Homo sapiens: one gene and its partners. The protein of the gene in region 1 purifies or fractionates together with the protein of each later gene. This does not show direct contact. Each region holds a gene or a part of one and is shown on either strand. Other genes may lie near its edges. The genes, in order: DDAH1, PGLS, ADA and NENF.

The links.
Region 2: the proteins of DDAH1 (region 1) and PGLS fractionate together in Homo sapiens (co-fractionation; one large-scale study listed by BioGRID). This does not show direct contact.
Region 3: the proteins of DDAH1 (region 1) and ADA fractionate together in Homo sapiens (co-fractionation; one large-scale study listed by BioGRID). This does not show direct contact.
Region 4: the proteins of DDAH1 (region 1) and NENF fractionate together in Homo sapiens (co-fractionation; one large-scale study listed by BioGRID). This does not show direct contact.

Annotation. Positions count from the first base shown.
Region 1 is NC_000001.11:85,461,490-85,467,581, reverse strand, and holds the start of DDAH1 (N(G),N(G)-dimethylarginine dimethylaminohydrolase 1), read left to right. Parts: upstream 1-2,422; 5' UTR 2,423-2,536; coding exon 2,537-2,839; intron 2,840-2,982; exon of another isoform or gene 2,983-3,062; coding exon of another isoform or gene 3,063-3,086; intron 3,087-6,092. UniProt on the Homo sapiens protein: Hydrolyzes N(G),N(G)-dimethyl-L-arginine (ADMA) and N(G)-monomethyl-L-arginine (MMA) which act as inhibitors of NOS. Has therefore a role in the regulation of nitric oxide generation.
Region 2 is NC_000019.10:17,513,564-17,519,111, forward strand, and holds part of PGLS (6-phosphogluconolactonase), read left to right. Parts: intron 1-2,609; coding exon 2,610-2,717; intron 2,718-3,724; coding exon 3,725-3,826; intron 3,827-4,146; coding exon 4,147-4,287; intron 4,288-5,548. UniProt on the Homo sapiens protein: Hydrolysis of 6-phosphogluconolactone to 6-phosphogluconate.
Region 3 is NC_000020.11:44,624,200-44,629,747, reverse strand, and holds part of ADA (adenosine deaminase), read left to right. Parts: intron 1-578; coding exon 579-701; intron 702-3,148; coding exon 3,149-3,292; intron 3,293-4,063; coding exon 4,064-4,179; intron 4,180-5,418; coding exon 5,419-5,546; intron 5,547-5,548.
Region 4 is NC_000001.11:212,438,306-212,443,853, forward strand, and holds part of NENF (neudesin precursor), read left to right. Parts: intron 1-4,259; coding exon 4,260-4,320; intron 4,321-5,548. UniProt on the Homo sapiens protein: Acts as a neurotrophic factor in postnatal mature neurons enhancing neuronal survival. Promotes cell proliferation and neurogenesis in undifferentiated neural progenitor cells at the embryonic stage and inhibits differentiation of astrocytes.

The DNA of each region.
Region 1 (6,092 bases):
AGGCATGCTTATCAAATTTCAGATGGCACGAATTAGAAGTAATAAGTAATGCACGAGATAACAGAATCAAAACTAGACAAATTAGAAATAAGTAAATAACATTTAACAGGGATAACTACAAAATTAGATTTTAAAAGAACAGGTACCCAATTTCAGTATGGAAAGACATGGCTAACATCAGGTTTTAATTGGCTGCTAGACTGACATGAGCCCAGAGTGGTACACAGAACCCTGTTCATAGTTAGACTCAGGGCACTGAGTGGTAGGTGAAATATTCAGGCTCCAACAAGGCACAGGCATGAATGAAGATTGCTAGATGGTGGCCAGCTAGAGACAGATGGAGCCTCAATGTCTGGTAAAGTCTGCAGTAAAGAGCAGAATGAAGTCCTATACTTTATTTAACCCGGGAGCTAAACAAATAAACAATATATAATAAGAATAAATAGGCTGGGTGCAGTGGCTCACGCCTGTAATCCCAGCACGTTGGGAGGCCGAGGCAGGCGGATCACCTCAGTTGAGGAGTTTGAGACTAGCCTGACCAACATGGAGAAACTCCGTCTCTACTAAAAATACAAAATTAGCCAGGCGTGGTGGCACATGCCTATAATCCCAGCTACTCGGGAGGCCGAGGCAGGAGAATCACTTGAACCCCGGTTGCAGAGGTTGCAGTGAGCTGAGATCGCGCCATTGCACTCCAGCCTGGGAAACAAGAGCGAAACTCCATCTCAAAAAAAAAAAAAAAAAAAAAAGAATAAATAATGAACTAATTTAAAAATAAATAAATTTTATATTTAACCAGGGCAAGCTTAAGGTAAAAGATCAACTTTCACCTGTAACTTTGATGGAAATCCTCCATCTGAGGACACCATTAAGTGATTTCTGACGCTAAACTGGGGCTAATGGGGCTGCCTGGATCCCCTAAGAATTTTGCTTTAGAAGTACTACCTAGTCGGTCTTAAAGGTTTGTTATTTTACTTTTGGTCCCACTTCCCAATGTCAGTGTCAGAGCTGTCCTTGAGACTCCTCAAATTTGGGCAGGGCGTGGTAGCTCATGCCTGTAATCCCAGCACTTTGGGAGGTGGAGGCGGGTGGATCACCTGAGGTCAGGAGTTCGAGACCAGCCTAGCCAACATGGTGAAACCCTGTCTCTGCTAAAAATACAAATTAGCCGCGAGTGGTGGCGTGCACCTGTAGTCCCAGCTACTCAGGAGGCTGAGGCAGGAGAATTGCTTGAACTGGGGAGGCAGCAGTTGAAGTAAGCCGAGATCGTGCCACTGCACTCCAGCCTGGGCAACAAGAGTGAAACTCCGTCAAAACAAAACAACAACAAAAAACAAAAAAAACTCCTCAAATGTGAAGCTGAGAATTTTGAAGCTCATTTATAAATTCACACCACCCTTGTGGGAGGGGAGAGAAGGCAGATCACATCTCTGGGCTCAGTTGGGGCAACCATTCTAGGATGCTCAGAGAGACCTGCTCCTAGAAATCCAGAGTTTCCTAAAAGCTGGGATCAGAGTTCTGGCAAGAAGGCTGTAGCCTGGGCCTTGGCCCTAGACCACCAAAAAAGTGAATACAGGCTTAGGCAGTGTTCATAGAGGCCCAGCATCTGGAACAAGGGTGCTGCTGTAGTCTGTGCTGGTCAGACCACACAGGAAGAATTGTTTATTTTCCGGATACTATGATTTTAAAAGGATACAAGCAAATTGGTGTGTATCAAAAGGAAGCTGACCAGAATGTTGAAGGGACTTGGAAACCAAATCACTAGTTACTTTTCAGTGGTTTGGGCTCCAGGACTGGAGGGGGTTTAGGGTGGGGGGTAGAGGATGGTGTTAGGCAGCATAGATAATTAGAACTGTTTTCAGATATGCAAATGCTGTTTTGTGAAAACACACACACACGCGAACACACACAAAACAAGAAAAACTTGTACTTTAGGTAAGGCCAGAAAACAGAACTGGGACCCGTGGGATTTAAGCTCAACATGAAGAATCTGTAAACCATTATAGCTCTTCAAAAGTGGGCTAGACTTTGTAAGCACGCAAGGTTTAAACTGTTCAGGTAAAGACCAGGAAGCCCTCCAGCTGCTCTGTCCAGACCGAGGCCGGCTCTCCAAGTCCGCGCTGGGGACGATGGGAGGTGTGCACCTGCGACAGAACACAGGTACCGCCAGGTCCGGGTAGCGGTGGCTTTTCGCCGAGGTCCCCCGCCTCCGCATACTTCTTGCCCTCGCTGCTTCCCCGGCCGCCTCTCCTGGCCCCACTCCTCGCCCGGCGCTCGCCGCTACAACTCCCGCCTGGGCTGGCGCGAGACCCGCGAGCGCCGGAGTGGGCGCGCGGGATGCGCGCGGGCCGGCGCCCGGAGCTCTGGGCATGCTCAGTCGCGCGGGCAGGGCTCCGGGCGCGAGCTGGGCTCCTTCTGCACCACATTCAGCGGCTGCCAAGAGGAGCCGACGGGCGCTCGCAGGCTCAGCGCGCGCTGCCCGCGGCAGGACCCGGCCGCCTCCGCCGCCGCCGCCGCCCCTAAGCCTCCCGAAGCCATGGCCGGGCTCGGCCACCCCGCCGCCTTCGGCCGGGCCACCCACGCCGTGGTGCGGGCGCTACCCGAGTCGCTCGGCCAGCACGCGCTGAGAAGCGCCAAGGGCGAGGAGGTGGACGTCGCCCGCGCGGAACGGCAGCACCAGCTCTACGTGGGCGTGCTGGGCAGCAAGCTGGGGCTGCAGGTGGTGGAGCTGCCGGCCGACGAGAGCCTTCCGGACTGCGTCTTCGTGGAGGACGTGGCCGTGGTGTGCGAGGAGACGGCCCTCATCACCCGACCCGGGGCGCCGAGCCGGAGGAAGGAGGTAACTGCCGACTCGAGGGGCGCGGCCGGGGCGCGCGCCAGGCCCTCCCCCGCCGCCGGCCGCCGTGTTGCCTGGGGAGTCGCGCCATTGGCCCTCGGGCTAGTAGTTCACAACTTCCCGTCGGGGGGCGAGTGTGTGTGTGTGTGTGTGTGTCAGAGAGTCAGAGAGAAGTTCATTGTTCACACCTCCCGGCTGCCGGCAGCCTTCTGGAGGATCCGATTCAATGTGGTTGTACGGTCTCGGGCAGGTGGGTGGGCGGGGGATTCCGTCTCACGGGCATTTTTATTTGTGAAAATTAAACGGCAGCGACGACAGTGCAACTCTGAGTGTTTCCCAGGGAGCGAGGGCCGCGAGGGGTGCCGCTCCGGTAGGGCGGGTGGAGGCTGGGCGTCCCTCCAGGGGGCAGCGCCAGTCGTGACACCGAAGCCCCCAAGTCCTGCCTGGCGCTCGGAGCAGGACAAGCTGGATGAATTAACGGGGTGTCGGTGCCCACAGACCTGGGGCTTCTCAAGTTAGTTTTCAGTGGTGGCGAGTGAGTCCCAAAGAACGGGACTAGTAAGTGAATGAATGGAAGGAAAAGTGTTTTGTTGGTGAGCTGTGCTAAATGTGTGCATGAATGGGCTAGGTTTGAAAAGCTGTACTCTGTGCGGTGTTGGGTGTGTGTGCTAGCGAGCGTGTTTAATTAGAGATGGTTGTTTCACAAATTCCATAATTTTTATTCTCTATATTTTTAAACTCACAGCAATTAAGAGAGTTTTTCTGTTCTCAAGGGTTGTAACTACTTTGAAATACTGCAGCTTGTGAAATGGCTGATTGCTTTAAGTGCAATGTAGGTTAGTGGGGAGAGACAAATAGAGTGAGATTGGATTTTAAAATGCCATCTGGCCTGGGATTCTTCTCATTGCCAGTTAAGAGCCCAGGCTCAAGACTCCGTTGCTATTGGCATCCAGTGGCATTGCAAGAAGCTAGTGGTTTCTTTCATTTCTGGAGATTTAAGAATTTTTTTTCTATTTTGTCTGTATTCACTTCACATTGGAAATGCCTCATAGAGCTTATGATAAAATATGCTTATTCCTCACCTGCTCCACTACTTGGTTGATGGAATGCCACATGGTCTGAGAAAATAAGCATATTCTACTAATTTCTCATCGAGATAATCAGCTTTTATTTCACCCTCCATTAACAGAAAACCAAAAGAGTAACAGATCTCTGCTAGCCCTTTGATGTCTTTGCCACACCTCTCCATCTTTGAGTCTGTGAGATGTCCCACTCTTTTAAACTGATAAGGAATGTAATCCCATTTGAATACTTTCTAATGCGTTCTAGGCCAAATGGCAGAGCTATGGTTTGAACTTAAAAGAGCAAAATCGATTTCAAAACCCTTTCAAAATGGCACTCTTTTGATGAGAGTAGTCCAATTTCTTCTCAAGAGACTGTCACCATATTTATTCACCCATTTCATTTTATTCCTATAATAAAAGCTTCCAAGCTTTGGCCTCCCTGATACCTAAGTGAGCAGTGATCTTTTTCCCCTGCCTAGATTTTGAAGCATACATTTTAAATTGGTTTAATTCTGATATCAGCCTGGTGGCCCACTGCCAGAAGTCACATGGTGTAGTGGATAAAAACATTAGACTGAATCTCAGCTCTACCACTTTCTAATTCTGTGACCTTTAGGGAGTGTCTCTTGCCTCAGTTTTCGCATCTATACAGTGGACATAATAATACCTGTTTCACAAAGTTGTTGTAATAGATGTATTAATCTACCTGAAATTCACAGGACAGGACATTTGATGAATGTTGACTATTATTATTCACTTAACTATGGATCAGGGAAGATTTACTCCGTTAATAAGAAGTCAGCTATACACTGATGTAGTTAGTGACATCTCTCTACTATGTGATACTGCCTCTGGGTTTGGGTCTCCTGCTGGTGCCTGCCTTTGCATTGCACATGATCTGGGTCACCAGGGTAACAGGCCTCCCAGGCAGGGAGAGGAATATGGGCAGTCAGTGTTGGATGGGATGCTTCTGGAGGGCAGAGTCATGTAGGGCAATGCTTGTAGAAATCTCTCACGGCACCAGCTCACCGCCTTGGTAGGTGTTAATGCTTGTTGAGTGAGTGGATGAATGAATGAATGATGAATGAAATGCTAATACAAGAAGATAGTTACTTCAAGACCCTCTATGGATTGCTGTATATTTTTTTCATGTGATGTCTGCATTCCCAACTGTGAAAATCCACAGTAGCCAAGGAATTATTTTAAAATTATTGTCACTGATCTCTGCCTCTAGTCTTGTCAATTTTCCATTCCATTCCCACACTGTAGCCAAGCTGGTCTTTTAAAAACTCAGATCTGATCCTGTCCCTTCTCTGACTAAAATTCTCAAGGGGCCCCCACTGAGCTTAGATAAACCCATTGAGCTGGGCTGTGCTTGCCTTTCCAGCTTCAGCTTCACCTCTGATCCCACCCCAAGCATCCCCTGATCCATGGATCGAGCGAGGTTCTTTCACTGAAGCTCACCAGACTATTGCTTTTATTTTGTCCGGGTACTCTTCCTCTTTCCTCTCTTCCCTTTTATCTGTCTTAAGTTCTCAGCTTACTGTTATCACTATTATTAGCTAATATTTATTGGGTACTTGCCACTTGCCATACACCATACCAGATTTATGATGTGCATTTCATTAATACTCACATCAACTCTTTGAACTCAATACTATCATAATTCCTATTTTAAAGTTGGTGAAACTGAGGCCTGGAGAGATTAAATAAATTGGCCAGGGTTATAGAGTGTAACCTGTAAAACCAGGATTTGAACTCGGGTTTAGAGAACTCCAAAGCTCTAGTCCCACTTAGACATCACTTTTCCAAGCATGGAATTGGTTCTCCTTTTATGAGCTCCTAAAACGCTATAAACTTCCTTTTATATATATCATACCACGTGATAATTGCCTGTTTACCGTTCTGTATCTCCCACTATTATGTAACCTGTCAGGGCTAGGATCATGTCTGTATTGGTCAACATTTTGTCACCAAGGCCTTGTATACAATAGGCATGTAGCAAATATTTTGTTGAACAAGTGTTCTCATTATTTTAGATTAACCTTAATTCTCCCTCCTTATGACATATTTGGTGTTTCACAAGCATTCCCAATCAGTAAGGTCCCAAAAGTTCTATTATGAACGTAGGTGGTTTATAGCTGTTTCTTCTTCTCCCTTTCCCTGTCCCTGCCTCTTTCTATTGTTATTGT
Region 2 (5,548 bases), on another chromosome or scaffold:
ATCTCAGCACTTTGGGAGGCCAAGGATGGTGGATCACCTGAGGTCAGGTGTTGGAGACCAGCCTAGCCAACATGGCAAGACCCCATCTCTACTAAAAATACAAAAATTAGCTGGGTGTGGTGGCGTGTGCCTGTAATCCCGGCTACAGGGGAGGCTGAAGCACGAGAATCGCTTGAATGTGGGAGGCAGAGGTTGCAGTGAGCTGAGATCATGCCACTGCACTCCAGCCTGGGCGACAGTTGAGACTCTGTCTCAAAATAAATAATTGTGAAATGCTGCAGAGTGCTAGGGAATAGGGAGTGAGCATTCGTCAAGGGCTATGGGGTGGGAGGTCCTGAGAAGGTGCCATTTGAGCTGAGAGCTGGAGCATGTGCAGGAGCTGGCCATGGTCAAGCTGTGGCAAGAGGGCTCAGCTAAGGCCAAAGCCGTGTGATGGGAGCAAACCTGAAGCCAGGACTTGCTCCTTCTGCCGGTTCTCTGTGAGGGGAATCATATCGGTTCCCTAGGGCTACATAACGAATGACCACAAACTGAGCGGCTTAAAGCCACAGGAATTTATTCTCTCACCGTTCTGGAGGCCAGAAGTCTGAAATCAAGGTGTTGGTGGGGTCACGCCCCATCTGAAAGCTCTTTGGGAGGATCCTTCATTTTCTCCTCATCTTCTGGGGGCTCTGGGCGTTCCTTGGCTTGGGGTCACACCATTCCAATTCCTGTCTCTGTCTGCACATGGCCTTCTTGGATTCTGTGTGTCTTCTCATCTTATATAAGGACGCCAGTCATTGGATTTAGGGCCCACACTAATCCACTATGACTTGTTCTTAACTAATTACATCTGCAAAGACCCTATTTCCTTCCTTCCTTCCCTCCTTCCCTCCCTTCCTTCCCTTCCTTCCTTCCTCCCTTCCTATACTTTCTTTTCTTTTCCTTTCCTTTTCTTTCTTTTTTTGAGATAGGATCTTGTTGTGTTGCCCAGGCTGGAGTGCAGAGGCATGATCGTGGCTTACTGCAGCCTTCAGCTCCCGGGCTCTATCAATCCCCCTGCCTCAGCCTCCTCAGTAGCTGGGACTACAGGTGTGCACCACCAGGCCCAGCTAATTTTTTTTTTTGAGTTGGAGTTTCACCCTTGTTGCCCAGGCTGGAGTGCAATGGCGCGATCTCAGCTCACCACAACCTCCGCCTCCTGGGTTCAAGTGATTCTCCTGCCTCAGCCTCCCAAGTAGCTGGGATTACAGGCATTCACCACCACGCCCAGCTAATTTTATATTTTTAGTAGAGGTGGGATTTCTCCATGTTGGTCAGGCTGGTCTCGAACTCCTGACCTCAGGTGATCCGCCTGCCTTGGCCTCCCAAAGTGCTGGGATTACAGGCATGAGCCACCGTGCCAGGCCGCTAATTTTTTATTTTTGGTAAATACGAAGTTTCACTATGCTGCCCAGGCTGGTCTCAAACTCCTGGGCTCAACCGATTGTCCCACCTCAGCCTCCCAAAGTGCTGGGATTACAGCCGTGAGCCACCATGCCTGGCCATTTTCTGTTGTTTATAAGCCTCGAGTTTATGGTGTTTTGTGATAGCAGGCTGCATAGATTAACACAGGGACCTTGGACAAAGCAGAGTGGTCTTTCCAACTATGGATACGATTGTGTCCCTCCCCAGCTCACACACCCTCCTTGGCTCCCCAATGCCCTCAGTGTGGAGCTCATACTCCTCAGGTCAGCATTCAGGGCAGTCAGCCCCTGCGTTTACTTCGTGGCTCACCTTAGCATTGCCTCAGCTCACTGAGCTAGACTCTGCACAAACACGAGGCACCGAGACATGGACGCCATCTCAGAGCAGACCAGGGCCCCTGGGGCGCCTCTCAGTGGGATAGGGCTGCAGCTTTCTCCTTGATCCAAGTGCTTTTGAGTTAAATCTGCTGCCAACGACTCCACCATTCACAGGCCAGGGCATCTACTGTGCGCTAGCCACAGGTGCTGGGCCTGGGCAAGCCTGGCCCCCACTCCCTGTAGTGGGGCAGGTGCAGGCGGGGGTGGCTGCTCGGAGGAGGTGGCCTGAGGGATGTATATGAGTTTCCCAGGCAGCCTTAGGAGGGAGGGTGGGGATGGAGAAGGTTACCCTTCTCCATGGAGGGTGGTGAGGGGCTGAGTTTTATCCCAAGGGCCGTGGGACCCTGGAGGCTTTGAAACAGGACAATGGGCTGGCTAGACAGGTGCAGGCTATGGCCAGGAAACCCCCCAAATACAACGGAATTGAAAGACTCCTGTTGGAATGCTGGCCCCCGCAGGAACCACCATGATCCCGATTCACCCAGGAGGGCCACCCTCCCGTCCAGCCCCCCAAGAGCAGCAGGGCTCCCTCTTGCCCTTGAACCTCCTCTGCCCTGACAGGCGGCGTCACCCAGGGCTCAGGATCCTGGCTTCCAGCATTCCAGAGGTGACTCACCAACCAAAGTGTCACTCACCAACCGAAGGACCTTGCACAAATGCACCAGCCTCCCCATGCCTCAGTCTCCCCATCTGTAAATGAGTGTTATGACGGTACTGTCATAAACTCCCTGGAGGATCCAGGTGGTCACGTTACTGTTGGTGACATTGTCCCTCTGTTGGCTGCAGACGCATCTTCTCTCCAGACTGCCGATCCCAGAAAGCCAGGTGATCACCATTAACCCCGAGCTGCCTGTGGAGGAGGCGGCTGAGGACTACGCCAAGAAGCTGAGACAGGTGAGCCCCGAGGAGCGGCCGCAAGGGAGTCACATCCACGAAGCGGCCACACCCCGGGCAACAGAGCGGCCTTCTGATTGTCACCAGCAGGAACTGCCCCAGGGATCACTGGCAGATCCCTTTGAGGAATCCCCTCTTCGAGGCCACAGCCCTGCCCTGGGGAGCCTGAAGGCCACTCGGCCTCTGTTGCCCAGGTAACAGGCCTGGGTCCTCACATCTTGGGGAAATATGATGGGTATGGCTATGGCTTTGATCACAGGCTACATTGAGCACTGTTTCCTGCGTTACAGCTACTTGTATTTCTTTTTTTTTTTTTTTCTTTGAGACGGAGTCTCACTCTGTCGCCCAGGCTGGAGTGCAGTGGCGTGATCATGGCTCACTGCAAGCTCCGCCTCCCGGGTTCACACCATTCTCCTGCCTCAGCCTCCTGAGTAGCTGGGACTACGGGTGCCCGCCACCACGCCTGGTTAATTTTTTTGTATTTTTTTAGTAGAGACGGGGTTTCACCATGTTAGCCAGGATGGTCTCGATCTCCTGACCTCGTGATCCGCCCACCTTGGCCTCCAAAGTGCTGGGATTATAGGCGTGAGCCACCATGGGCCTTTTTTTTTTTTGAGATGGAGTCTTACTCTGTCACTCTGTCACCTAGGCTGGAGTGCAGTGATGCAATCTCAGCTCACTGCAACCTCTGCCTCCCGGGCTCAAGTGATTATCCTACCTCAGCCTCCCAAGTAGCTAGGACTACAGGTGCCTGCCACCACGCCTGGCTAATTTTTGTATTTTTAGTAGAGACAGGGTTTCATCATGTTGGCCAGGCTGGTCTTGAACTCCTGACCTCGTGATCCACCTACCTCGGCCTCCCAAAGTGCTGGGATTTCAGGTGTGAGCCACCATGCCCAGCCACAGCTACTTGTATTTTTTTATCTGACAACTGTTTCTGTGTCCTCTGAGTCTCCCCTGCCCCTGCCACCTACAACCTCTCAAGGCTGTCTTCTCCCCACGCCCAGGCATTCCAAGGGGACTCCATCCCGGTTTTCGACCTGCTGATCCTGGGGGTGGGCCCCGATGGTCACACCTGCTCACTCTTCCCAGACCACCCCCTCCTACAGGTGAGCACACCAATGCGGGGTTCCACCCTAGTCCTGAGCCCAGTCCCTAACATCTGGGACTTCCAGAGGGAGAGCCACCTGCCGGGTGGGGTGTCTAGAGCCAGGGTTCAAGTCAGCCTCCACCAACATACCTGCCTGCTGGGCTCAATCCTTTCAGGTCTCAGTTGAGCCCCTTAAAACAGGGACCTTAAACTACCCACCATGGGATTGTTAGTAGGATGGGATGGAACAGTGGCTGGACCAGGCCTGGTGTGTGTAAGTGTCCAAGAAGCTGAAGTGACATTGTCCTTCTGCCTCCATCCCTGGGCTTCCTCCCCAAGGAGCGGGAGAAGATTGTGGCTCCCATCAGTGACTCCCCGAAGCCACCGCCACAGCGTGTGACCCTCACACTACCTGTCCTGAATGCAGCACGAACTGTCATCTTTGTGGCAACTGGAGAAGGCAAGGCAGCTGTTCTGAAGGTAACAGCTGAGGGTTCTAGTCCTGGGAAGTTCATGGGCATGTGGGCCCCAGGGACAGAAAATGGCCCCAGACATTATTGTGCTGAAGCATCAGATCTGAAGAAAACTCAGTCATTCTTGGGTTGAAAGGTAACTTGAAATTGCAATTAGAAAAAAAGGAAAAAAAAAAAAAAAACCCCAGAAAATTGCAATTAAAGGCTAGTTAGGTATTAACCGCTATGAAATGAAATTGATGAGATGAGGCCAAAGCTGCATTCAGAGGTAAATTAATAGCATTCAAATGCATTTAAAAAAAATTATTAAGTAGCAAACTATTGAAATAAATCAAGTGCTTTCCTGTAGAATTAGAAAAAGGACAATAATATAAATCTACAAAAGTCAGTGGCAGGACTAAGTGAAATTAAAGTCAGAAATTAATGAGTTGGTTAATATATTTTAAACTTTAATGGTAAGTAGATCTAAAAGATAGAAAAGCTCCTGACAAGGCTAATCAAGAGAAAAAAAAATCACGTGGTATTATGAATAAAAAAAGGTACTGTTATGTAAAGTATTTTAGGAAAATACAAATTCATTACAGCATTAAAAATAAACTAAATAATTAAAAAGGTTTTAGTTGCCTTCATTGAAAAGACCAACAACTACAGAAGAAACTGGAAATATATTTTTATTTTTTTTTTGTTTTTTGTGTTATTGTTGTTGAGACAGAGTCTCCCTCTGTCGCCAAGGCTGGAGTGCACTGATGTGACCTCAGCTCGCTACAATCTCTACCTCCCAGGTTCAAGCGGTTCTCCTGCCTCAGCCTCTTGACTAGCTGGGATTATAGGCGCCTGCCACCAGGCCTGGCTAATTTTTGTATTTTTAGTAGAGAGGGGGTTTCACCATGTTGGCCAGGCTGGTCTCAAACTGCTGACCTCATGTGATCCACCTGCCTTGGCCTCCCAAAGTGCTGGGATTACAGATATGAGTCACCGTGCCTAGCCTGGTTTTTACTTTTCTAAGTGGTTGGAAAAAAGTCAAATGAAGAGCCAGGCCATGCTTATCATCCCATCTACTCAGGAGGCTAAGGCAGGAGGATTACTCGAGCTCAGGAGTTCGAAGCTATAGTGAAATGTAATTGCAACTGTGAATTACCACTGCACTGGGGAACATCACGAGAACTCATCTCCAAAAAAAATAAATCAGGCGGGGCGCGGTGGCTTATGCCTGTAATCCCAGCACTTTGGGAGGCTGAGGCAGGCGGATCACCTGAGGTCAGGAGTTC
Region 3 (5,548 bases), on another chromosome or scaffold:
CTGAGCTGGCTGGCGGCCCACTGGGCCCCTCCCCTGAGCCTCCACCGGCCCTCTCCCAGTGCGCTGGGCTGGGCAAGCCTCTGATGTGCCAGCCAGATGGAGGGTGAAGTCCTGATGCCTGCCCCTACCCTGGGAATTGTGATGCTGCAGTTACTGCCCCTGATAACCCCTGACTGGGCATAGGACCAGCTGGCTGAGCCAGCTCCTGGGGCTGAGGAGGAAGCCATGAACTTGACCTGGCACTTTCCTTGTCTCCAAGCATCAGTCAACCAAGGATATGGAGGGGGTGTGTGCATGTGTGCACACATACACACACACACACACACACACTTCAACCTGTTTATCCCCCTTGAGATTTGCTGACTTGTGCATTGGGGGTAGAAGGTGCTGGAAAAATTCCGGTCCTGGTTCTCAGTTTCCCCATCTGTCCAGTGGGAGCAGCTGGACTGAGAGACGCCCATGTCTCCTGCTGTGGTCCTGCAAGGAGGCTGGCGCTCCTGAGTCTGCTCCATCCTGGCCTGTCAGGCCTGCCTGGATCCTGCCCCGGGTTGGTCCACCACTCACTGTTTTGTTTCCAGGAGGAGAGGGATCGCCCTCCCAGCTAACACAGCAGAGGGGCTGCTGAACGTCATTGGCATGGACAAGCCGCTCACCCTTCCAGACTTCCTGGCCAAGTTTGACTACTACATGCCTGCTATCGCGTGAGTTGCCCCCAACCCACAGGTCCTAGGGCAGCATTGATCCCTATGACTAGGACCAGGCCTGTCCCTCAGCCTGTGGGGGCCAGAGAAGTTGCTCTGAAACCACAGCTGTCTTTCTCACCATTGTGTACACTTAGTGAGTCTCTCCAGTGCCTTTAGGCCTCAGTTTTCCCTTCTGAGATGTGGGTGTGATGGACTGAAATTGCTTCAAGTTCTACAGAGAAATGGCAGAATATGGGAGCTAAGAACACAGGGTCAGAGGCAGTGCAGGGCTTGAACCCGGGCCATCTATCTCCTAGTTCAGGGCTTCGTGTTGTGAGGGGAGGAGAGGCCTGAATATAGGGTGGGGGCGGGGAGATGTGGGGAAGATTCTCCAAAAGGCTTTTTCTTTTTCTTGTCTTGAGTCGCCAGGGAACAGCACTAGGTACCGAAAAGGCCCAGAAGGGGTATGGGCGAGTACTAGAGAGAAATTTCCATGACTGCTTTATTTATTTATTTATTTATTTATTTATTTATTTATTGAGACAGAGTCTCACTCTGTTGCCCAGGCTGAAGTGCAGTGGTGCGATCTCAGCTCACTGCAACCTCCACCTCCCAGTTTAAGGGATTCTCCTGCTTTAGCCTCCCAAGTAGCTGGGATCACAGGCACCCACCATCACACCCAACTAATGGTTTTGTATTTTTAGTAGAGATGGGGTTTTACTATGTTTGCCAGGCTGGTCTCGAATTCCTGACCTCAGGTGATCTGCCCGCCTCGGCCTCCCAAAATGCTGGGATTACAGGCGTGAGCCACTGCGCCTGGCCTCCATCCTCATCCTGAAGATGCAAGAACTTCTGGTGACCCCTTCTCCTGAGAGTGGCCTGATCTCCCCTGGGCAGGGCACTTTCTTCCCACGCTGGGCTCTCCCAGCACTTGTGTGCCTTCCCTCACACATTCTAGTAACCACTTCATTTTCACTCTTCATGGTGGGAACTTCCAGCTAAGCACAGTCCACCGTTACGTGATCAACACAGTGGCCCTGGCAGGCCAATTTGTGCCTTGCTTCTGGAACAAACATGCAGTAATAACAACGAAAATGTTTTGAGCATTTGTCCGCTCTGCTCCAAGCACTGACCCGGGTGGGGTTTATGAAGTTTGACTCATTTGTCCCCGCAATAACTCCTTGACCTAGGTGTCAGAGGGTGACTAACCAGGGGTCACACAGCAGATAAGTGTGGGCACAAGGATCCAAGTCCATGACTGTATCCCACGTGTCTCCCACATCCAGGCATCCCTCTGGACTTGTCCAGCTGTGTCCTTTTCTCTCATTTCTCTTCCCTGCCAGCCTTAACTCCATCACCAACAAATATTGGGCTACTCTGTCCTAGGCATGGTCCTCAGCTGAGAGGTCGCAGCCATCCCAAGACAGAGGGGTCCTTGCCACATGGAGACTGCATTCTAGTAGGGAATACAGCAAACTGGCTGATAAGCCATATGACACACAATGTTGAGTAGTGATAAGGACCTGGGAGAAAAAGAAAGCCCAGGAGAATGGTGGAGGGGCCGTTTTAAGATAAGGCGGTCTGGGCCAGGTACAGTGGCTCACGCCTGTATCCCCAGCACTTTGGGAGGCTGAGGTGGGCGGATCATGAGGTCAGGAGATCGAGACCATCCTGGCTAACACAGCGAAACGCTGTCTCTACTAAAAATACAAAAAATTAGCCGGGCGTGGTGGCATGCGCCTGTAATCCCAGCTACTTGGGAGGCTGAGGCAGACGAATCACTTGAACCCAGGAGGCAGAGGCTGCAGTGAGCTGAGATGGCGCCACTGCACTCCAGCCTGGGCGACAGAGCAAGATTCTGTCTCAAAAAAAAAAAAAAAAGATAAGGTGGTCAGGGAAGGCCTCTCTGAGGAGGTGAAGCTTCAGCTGGCTCTAAACCAGGGGAGCGGGAGAGACGCAGTGTAGGACAGTATCGGGGAAGAGCAGGCCTGTGTCTTCTCCGGTGGCCTCAGGGAATGAGGGAGAAGGAAGGTGCTGGGGAGGCTGGCAAGGCCTGGAGGATGCAGGCCTTGTGGGCAGGACCTGGGAGTTGCGATGTCACTCTCCGTGGCAGGAAGCTACTGGGGCTTCGAGGGGAGAAGTGATATGCTTTGATTTACCTTCTTAAAAGATTGCCCCAACTGCTGGGTGGAGAACAGGATGACAGGGGCAAGCATGGAGACAGGGAGGCCAGTTAGAGATGGCGTGATTCAGGCCAGGATGGAGGGGTGAGAACTGGTATGCAGTTCCAAAGTAGAGCTGATAGGACTTGCCCAGTGTCTGGGATCTTATCCAGTGGATGCCCAGAGCTTGGGTCTGGGGGATGAAGTGGGTTTAATCTGCCAAGGGTTGGGGATGTCATTTGCTCCTGGAGCTCCCAAGGGACTTGGGGAAGGTTGTTCCCAACCCCTTTCTTCCCTTCCCAGGGGCTGCCGGGAGGCTATCAAAAGGATCGCCTATGAGTTTGTAGAGATGAAGGCCAAAGAGGGCGTGGTGTATGTGGAGGTGCGGTACAGTCCGCACCTGCTGGCCAACTCCAAAGTGGAGCCAATCCCCTGGAACCAGGCTGAGTGAGTGATGGGCCTGGAAGGGGCCATGCTGAGGGTGTGGCTGGGAGGCTCAGCTCTGAGACTGGAAGGGCGAACTGCTGGGAATCCCTGACCCAAGCAAGACCTTGTTCTTGCCCCCAGTCTGGTCCATGGCCTCAGAAAGATGGGTTTAACTCTGTCACAAGAGACGTGGTTCCCATCCTCCCTTTGCCGTTATGTTCTTACCTTGGGCACAAGTGTTTGGCTGTGTCTTGCTCTGGCCACAGGCCTGCTGTCCAGGAATGTTAACCTGCTTAGCCACCCAGGATTTCTGAGGGGTCTCCCTTGTCACTGATGCTGATCAGATCTCTAAAGGCCCTAAAGGTCCTGCTCTAACTTCATAACTGAAGTGAGTCTGGCCCATTTCTAGCCCCCTGCCTGGGCCCCCATGGATCTCTAAGTGGTATCACAAAACCACCCTGCCCCATTTTCTGAGCCATGATTCTGATACATATAGAATGTGAACATCATGGCAGGCCCAAGCTTAGCAATGCTGTCCATCTGGGGGTGGGGAGGGCCATGTTGACACCCCACACCTCCCACTAAGATCTAGGAGCACCCAGCTGCTTTAAGAGCTAGAGGGACATGCTAGGGCCTGGGGGCATCTCTGCCAGTCTTTCCTCTGAGGCAGTGGGTCAGTGGGGGAGGAGGGTCCTCCCCAAAGCCTCCTCTTCCTCCTCTGTCCCAGTCCCAGAGCTGCCCTTTAGGCCTTCCTTTTGCCTCAGGCCCATCCCTACTCCTCTCCTCACACAGAGGGGACCTCACCCCAGACGAGGTGGTGGCCCTAGTGGGCCAGGGCCTGCAGGAGGGGGAGCGAGACTTCGGGGTCAAGGCCCGGTCCATCCTGTGCTGCATGCGCCACCAGCCCAGTGAGTAGGATCACCGCCCTGCCCAGGGCCGCCCGTCTCACCCTGGCCCTGACCTCCTGGCCTAGCAGTGGGGCTGTACCTGATCTCCCCTGTGCCCCACAGCCCCATGGTGTCCCCTTGAGCCCACTGGCATGAACTTGGGGCTTCATGAAACAACTGGAGACCTCCTAGGCAGGCTCAGAACTTCTGGAGATGTTCTCCCCAGGGACACCATGCCTTTATAGCCACCCTGCAGGAAGCTCAACACCAAATAGGAACGTAACTATTGAAAAAAAAATCTAGGCTAGATTCTGATCAGCCCATAGTCCTCCCTCGAGACCCAGTGGACCAGGCCCCATCCTGTCTGGGCCTGAATAGGTCTGATTTCCAAGATTTCTGAGGGGTCTCCCTTGTCACTGACGCAGATCAGATCTCTAGAGTTTGTGCCTCATGGTGCACAGCCTCACTGTGTGATATTGGGCAGGTCACACTGCTGCTCTGGTTATGCACCAAGACACCTCAGTTGTGCACTGTCACAAGGAGATGATCACACTTACTTCATTCCTCTACCCTCAGGATTAGTAAGAACCAAAGAGCTACCTGCACGCATTTCCTCTAATCCTCGCAGCAGCCTGCAAAGCAGAACTACCATTGCTTAGTCCCATTTGACAGATGAGGAAACTGAGGTGGAGTGAGGTGCAGCCTCTTGCAAGGCACAAACCCTGGATTTGTATCCGGGGACATCTAGTTCCAAAGCCTGTGTTCATTCATTCTTTCTTAAACACTTCAGAATAACTTTATTGGTTAAGAGTACCTAATACATTAGCGAGATACTTCCCAATACTAGTGTGAGTTCTATTTTAGATGACGTGTTAAACGGTCCTCCGTTTCCTCATCTGCGCATGGGAATAAGCCTACCATGAGTGTTGTTGGAAACACCAGGTGAGAGAAGGGTCCGTGTCATTTACTGAGCTCAGGCCCCGTCCTTGGTGCTTTACACACATGGCCTCGGCAAAGCCTGGCCGTGACCCTGTGCAATAGCTGGCAGGGTTCTTTCTGAAAAGGGCGGAAACTGAGGCCATAAGCAGAGCAGTTTTCCGCAGGCCATGTGGTTAGGACATAGCAGTTAGGATTTGAAGACACTGAGCCCTGTTTTGTGCTGGCCTCCCATGGGGGGTTTGGGTGGGACAGCAGGCAGGTAGGCTGGGAGGTCTCTCCATGGTGCTGGTGACAGAGCCTGGGTGGGCATCTCGCCCACAGACTGGTCCCCCAAGGTGGTGGAGCTGTGTAAGAAGTACCAGCAGCAGACCGTGGTAGCCATTGACCTGGCTGGAGATGAGACCATCCCAGGAAGCAGCCTCTTGCCTGGACATGTCCAGGCCTACCAGGT
Region 4 (5,548 bases), about 130 Mb from region 1:
ACTGTCTACAGATTGCAGGCCAGAGATTGGTATTCAAGTTTTCAATAAGGAAGAATTGCCCTAGGAAGGGCAAAGGCTTAGAATCAGACAGGTATGAGTCTGAATCCTGACTTTTTATTTACCAGCAGAGAAACCATTGACAGGTTATGTAAACTCTAAGCCTCAGTTTCTTCACCTACAAAATGGGTATAGTAATAACTGCCTTACAAGATTATTTTATTTTAGTTTAGTTTTTGAGACAAAGTCTCACTCTGTCACCCAGGCTGGAGTGCAGTGGCTGATTTTGTTTTGTTTTGCGTGTGTGTGTCTGTATTTTTTTTTTTTTTTTTTTGGAGACAGAGTCTTGCTCTGTCATCAAAGCTGGAGTGCAGTAGTGTGATCTTGGCTCACTGCAACCTCCGCCTCCCGGGTTCAAGCAATTCTGCCTCAGCCTCCCCAGTAGCTGGGATTACAGGCACCTGCCACCACACCCGGCTAATTTTTGTATTTTTAGTAGAGACAGGTTTTCACCATGTTGGCCAGGCTGGTCTCAAACTCCTGACCTCAAGTCATCTGCCCACCTCAGCCTCCCAAAGTGCTGGGAGCCACCATGCCTGGCTGTTTCTGTGTCACTTCTATTCCTGTGTCTGCATTTATACTCCCAAGCCTTCCACCCACCCTCCACCTTCTCAGTTGTCATTTCCCAGGCCTGAGAGTCTGTGCCTGGGGGTTGTGCTATCCATGGATGTTCATCTACACTGGGTCAGAACTCACCACCACAGCACGCTCTGTTTACTGATAAGACCATTCCTCTGCATGGCATATGAGGTATCTATGTCACTCTGAGGCCTCAAAAATGCTAAACATTCTTTTCTTCCCCTATAATATGACTTCCTCTTCGCACTTACACCTTCAAGTAAGTAGTTTAAGGAGGAGATAAAAATTTTACTGTTAAAAAAAGGAGATTGCTGGGTGCAGTGGCTCACGCCTGTAATCCCAGCACTTTGGGAGGCCGAGGCGGGTAGATCACCTCACGTTGGGAGTTCAAGACCAGCCTGACCAACATGGAGAAACCCCATCTCTACTAAAAATACAAAAAAAAAAAAAATTAGCCAAGCATGGTGGCACACGTCTGTAATCCCAGCTACTCGGGACACTGAGGCAGGAGAAATGCTTGAACCCGGGAGGCGGAGGTTGCGATGAGCCAAGATCATGACATTGCACTCCAGCCTGGGCAACAAGAGTGAAACTCCTTCTCATAAAAAAAAAAGATTGTTTGCCGGGCGTGTTGCCTCATGCCTATAATCCCAACACATTGAGAGGTCAAGGCAGGCAGATTACCTGAGGTCAGGAGTTCTAGACCAGCCTGGCCAACATGGTGAAACCTGTCTCTACTAAATATACAAAAAAAAAAAAAAAAAAAAAATTGGCCAGGCGTGGTGACACACGTCTGTAATCCCAGCTACCCTGGAGGCTGAGGCAGGAGAATAGCTTGAACCTGGGAGGCAGAGGTTGCAGTGAGCCGAGATTGTGCCACTGCACTCCAGCCTGGGCAACCGAGCTAGACTCCGTCCCCCCCCCACAAAAAAAGAAAAGAGTGTTAGTGATAAGATGCATGTTTTTGTTTATCTTATGTATGTGAATGTTATATTTATATGGCTGTTTGCCCATAGAAAATAAGTGTCGGCTGGGCATGGTGGCTTATGCCTGTAATCCCAGCCCTTTGGGAGGCCGAGGCGGGCAGATCACTTGAGGTTAGGAGTTTGAGACCAGCCTGGCCAACATGGTGAAACCCTGTCTCTGCTAAAAATACAAAAATTATCTGGGTATGGTGGCGTGTGCCTGTAATCCCAGCTACTCAGGAGACTGAGGCAGGAGAATCGCTTGAACTGGGGAGGTGGAGGTTGCAGTGAGCCGATATTGTACCACTGCACTCCAGTCTGGGTGACAGAGTAAGACTCTGTCTCAAAAAAAAAAAAAAAGGAAAAAGAAAAGAAGTATCAAGGAGAAAGCCACAGAATGGAAGATATGACAAAATACTGGGGTTAAATGATAGCTGTAATATATTTTTAAAATTGATATAAATACATAATCCCACTTGATAAATAATCAAAGCTGAGGAATAAGGAAACCTGGTAAAGGAAAGGCGGTAAATCATCACAAAGAAAAATGCCGTCTGCTGGCTTGGAAATCCAGGCCGTTTCAAATGACCCGTGTTAGATGAGGTGGAGCAAGTGTCCACAGAGTCAATGGCAGTCCTCTAGGGCCTGTCTTTAGGAGCCGGTTTGGAGTAATAAAAGGCAGCCCTCTGCTGAGCTCCTGTGTCGTGCCTGCTAGGTATTACGTACACTCTTTTCCTCAGCATTCCCGAGGCAAGTGGGCGTTACCCTCATATGACAGGCAGAGAAGCAGGCCTGAGTGGTTATGAGGCAGTGAGGTGTGTTTCCTTGGGCAAGTTGCTTAGCTTCTCTGAGCCTCAGTAGCTCCTCTGTCTGTTAAATGGGATCATGAAAACCCTTCACCATAAGCTGCACAAGCGCAAGAACACTAAGGCCCACCCCAAAGAGAAGGCCAAGCAGCAGGTGCTTGCAGAGCCTGAGATTCCTATGGACCCAGCAGCGACTCCCACCCTCGCCTGGGCTGTGAGCCACCTGGCTGATGCCCCTGCACCTCTGATGGCACTGAGACAAAGGAGAGATCTTGTCTTGGGTGTCTTGGGACTGTACCCATCGTCCCAGCCTGAGCCCAACTTGATGGAAGCTAGAAAAGTCATGCCATCCTTTTTTGTGTAATTCTTTCTTGGTGGGGAAATTCTGAGGTAACATTTTATGCCTGCTAATAGAGCCAAAAAAAAGTGTAAAGCCCATTGTTAGTAGAACGGTGGGGAAACAGCATTGCTTACATATCTCTAGCACTATAAATGTTGTTACAGGACAAACTAATAAAATATAAACAGTGATTAAGTTTTCATATACTTAGGCCCAGGAATTCCATATATTGAAATAGGGCACTTTCCTATGCATTCACTGGGTGGAGAGAAATTTTTAAATAAAGGCCTCAATGAAATAAGTCACCAAATTAGAAAGTAATTGATAGAAACATGTATTCATAATGCTGCCATTTATAGTTCTAAGGATTGGAAACCACCCAAATACCCAAAATAGAAAGCTAGCTAAACAAATAGGTAGACAATATCACTAATATAAGATGGGGCCCTACGCCGGGCATGGTGGCTCACGTCGGTAATCCCAGCACTTTGGGAGGCCTAGGTGGGTGGATCACCTGAGGTCAGGAGTTCGAGACCAGCCTGGCCAACATGATGAAACCCCATCTCTACTAAAAAGACAAAAAATTAGCGGGGCGTGGTGGCGGGTGCCTGTAATCCCAGCTACTCAGGAGGCTGAGTCAGGAGAATCACATGAACCCGGAAGGTGGAGGTTGCAGTGAGCTGACATTGCGCCATTGCACTCCAGCCTGGGCAGCATGAGTGAAACTCTGTCTCAAAAAAAAAGATGGGGCCCCATGGAGCTGTTTAAATGACAGTCATTTTGGTGGAAATGTTTATATGAGGGAATGTTACCTGTAAGAAGCAAAATATAAAATAGATTGCTCATATCAGTCACATCCGTGTATGTCTATTGATGAAGAGGAAAGGAAATTTGGACTGATAAGTAATTCATCATTTACTATTCTTTTGAATTTTCATCTCCATGAAGTTGCTTCTGTTCCTGATTTTCTTTTTTTTGAGACGGAGTCTCACTGTGTCACCCAGGCTGGGGTGCAGTGGCATGATCTTGGTTCACTACGACCTCTGCCTCCAGGGTTCAAGCAATTCTCCAGCCTCAGACTCGCGAGCAGCTGGGATTACAGGCATGTGCCACCATGCCCGGCTAATTTTTGTATTTTTAGTAGAGATAGGGTTTCACCATATTGGCCAGGCTGGTCTTGAACCCCTGACCTCAGGTGATCCGCCCGCCTTGGCCTCCCACAGTGCTGGGATTACAGGCGTGAGTCACTGTGCCTGGCCCCTGATTTTCTCTATAAAGGAGAGAATTGCCACATTCTTGTCATGAGACTTTATGACTTTTCCAAATTTCTGTGTGCGGGCATGACGCTGCCCAGGCAGGTGGCAAGCTCGCCAAGGACCAGGCTTAACAGAAAGCCTTTGGGACTTGACCCACTGCTCTTTGCTCAGCTTGTGATGGGAGAAGATTTTACTAAGTTGCACTGGAAGAGCTGGCTCTTCCCTTCCTCTTCACAGCTTCTCCCCTGCTTTCTAGGAAGATCAGCCCATCTACTTGGCAGTGAAGGGAGTGGTGTTTGATGTCACCTCCGGAAAGGGTAAGTGGTGTGGCATTTTGAATCTTCATTTCCAGGGAGCACAGAAGCCAGAGTGAGCAGCACTTGGAGGTGTGAGGAAAGGGAGGGAACATTAGGCAAGTCCTTTTCATTCCATTTTATTTTATTTTATTTTTTGAGACGGAGTTTCACTCTGTCACCCAGGCTGGAGTGCGGTGGCACGATCTTGGCTCACTGCAACCTCTGCCTTCTGGGTTCAAGCAATTCTCTGCCTCAGCCTCCCGAGTAGCTGGGATTACAGGCACCACCACCACCGCTGGCTAATTTTTTTGTATTTTTAGTAGAGACGGGGTTTCACCATCTTGGCAAGGCTGGTCTTGAACTTCTGACCTTGTGATCCACCCGCTTCGGCCTCCCAAAGTGCTAGTATTACAGGTGTGAGCCACCACACCTGGCCTTCCTTCCATTTTAAATGAGCAGATTGAGTTAATCTTTGTCAGTGTTTTACTTCAGCAGGGGCTTTTTTCCCCTGATAATGACATGCTTCTACTCAAAAGCCTTTCATGACTTTCCATTGCCTGTAGAATTAAATTCAAACTTAATGATTTACCCTAGTTGAAGCAATGAGAGAAGTGTTCTTTAGTAAAGAGTTGGCATTATAGAACATTACAGAACATTTTAGTGCCATTTAATGTAACTACTAATGATATCTTGGAGATAGTTTTGTATTGGTTTATCTATTATTTGATAACAAACACTGCTGAATGGGAATAGATTTGGCTTCCACCAACATTTAAGAAGAGGGAACATTTTTCTTGTTTGCATCTTTAATTTTTTTTTTGGAGACAGTCTCGCTCTGTCGCCCAGGTTAGAGTGCAGTGATGCGACCTTCTCCAGCTGCCAGGTTCAAACGATTCTCCTGCCTCAGCCTCCTGAGTAACTGGAATTACAGGTGCACGCCACCATGCCCAGATTTTTGTATTTTTAGTAGAGATGGGGTTTCACCATGTTAACCAGGCTGATCTTGAACTCCTGACCTCAAATGATCTGCCCATCTTGGCTTCTCAGAGTGCTGGGATTACAGGCGTGAGTCACCGCACCCAGCCTGCATCTCTAATATTTTTAAGAGACTATTTTCTCAGTATTAACACTTAGGTGAAAAAACAGAACGAGAAGGGGGCTAGGCACAGTGGCTTATGCTTGTAATCCCAGCGCTTTAGGAGGCCAAGGTGGGCAGATCATGTGAGCTCAGGAGTTCAAGACTAGCCTG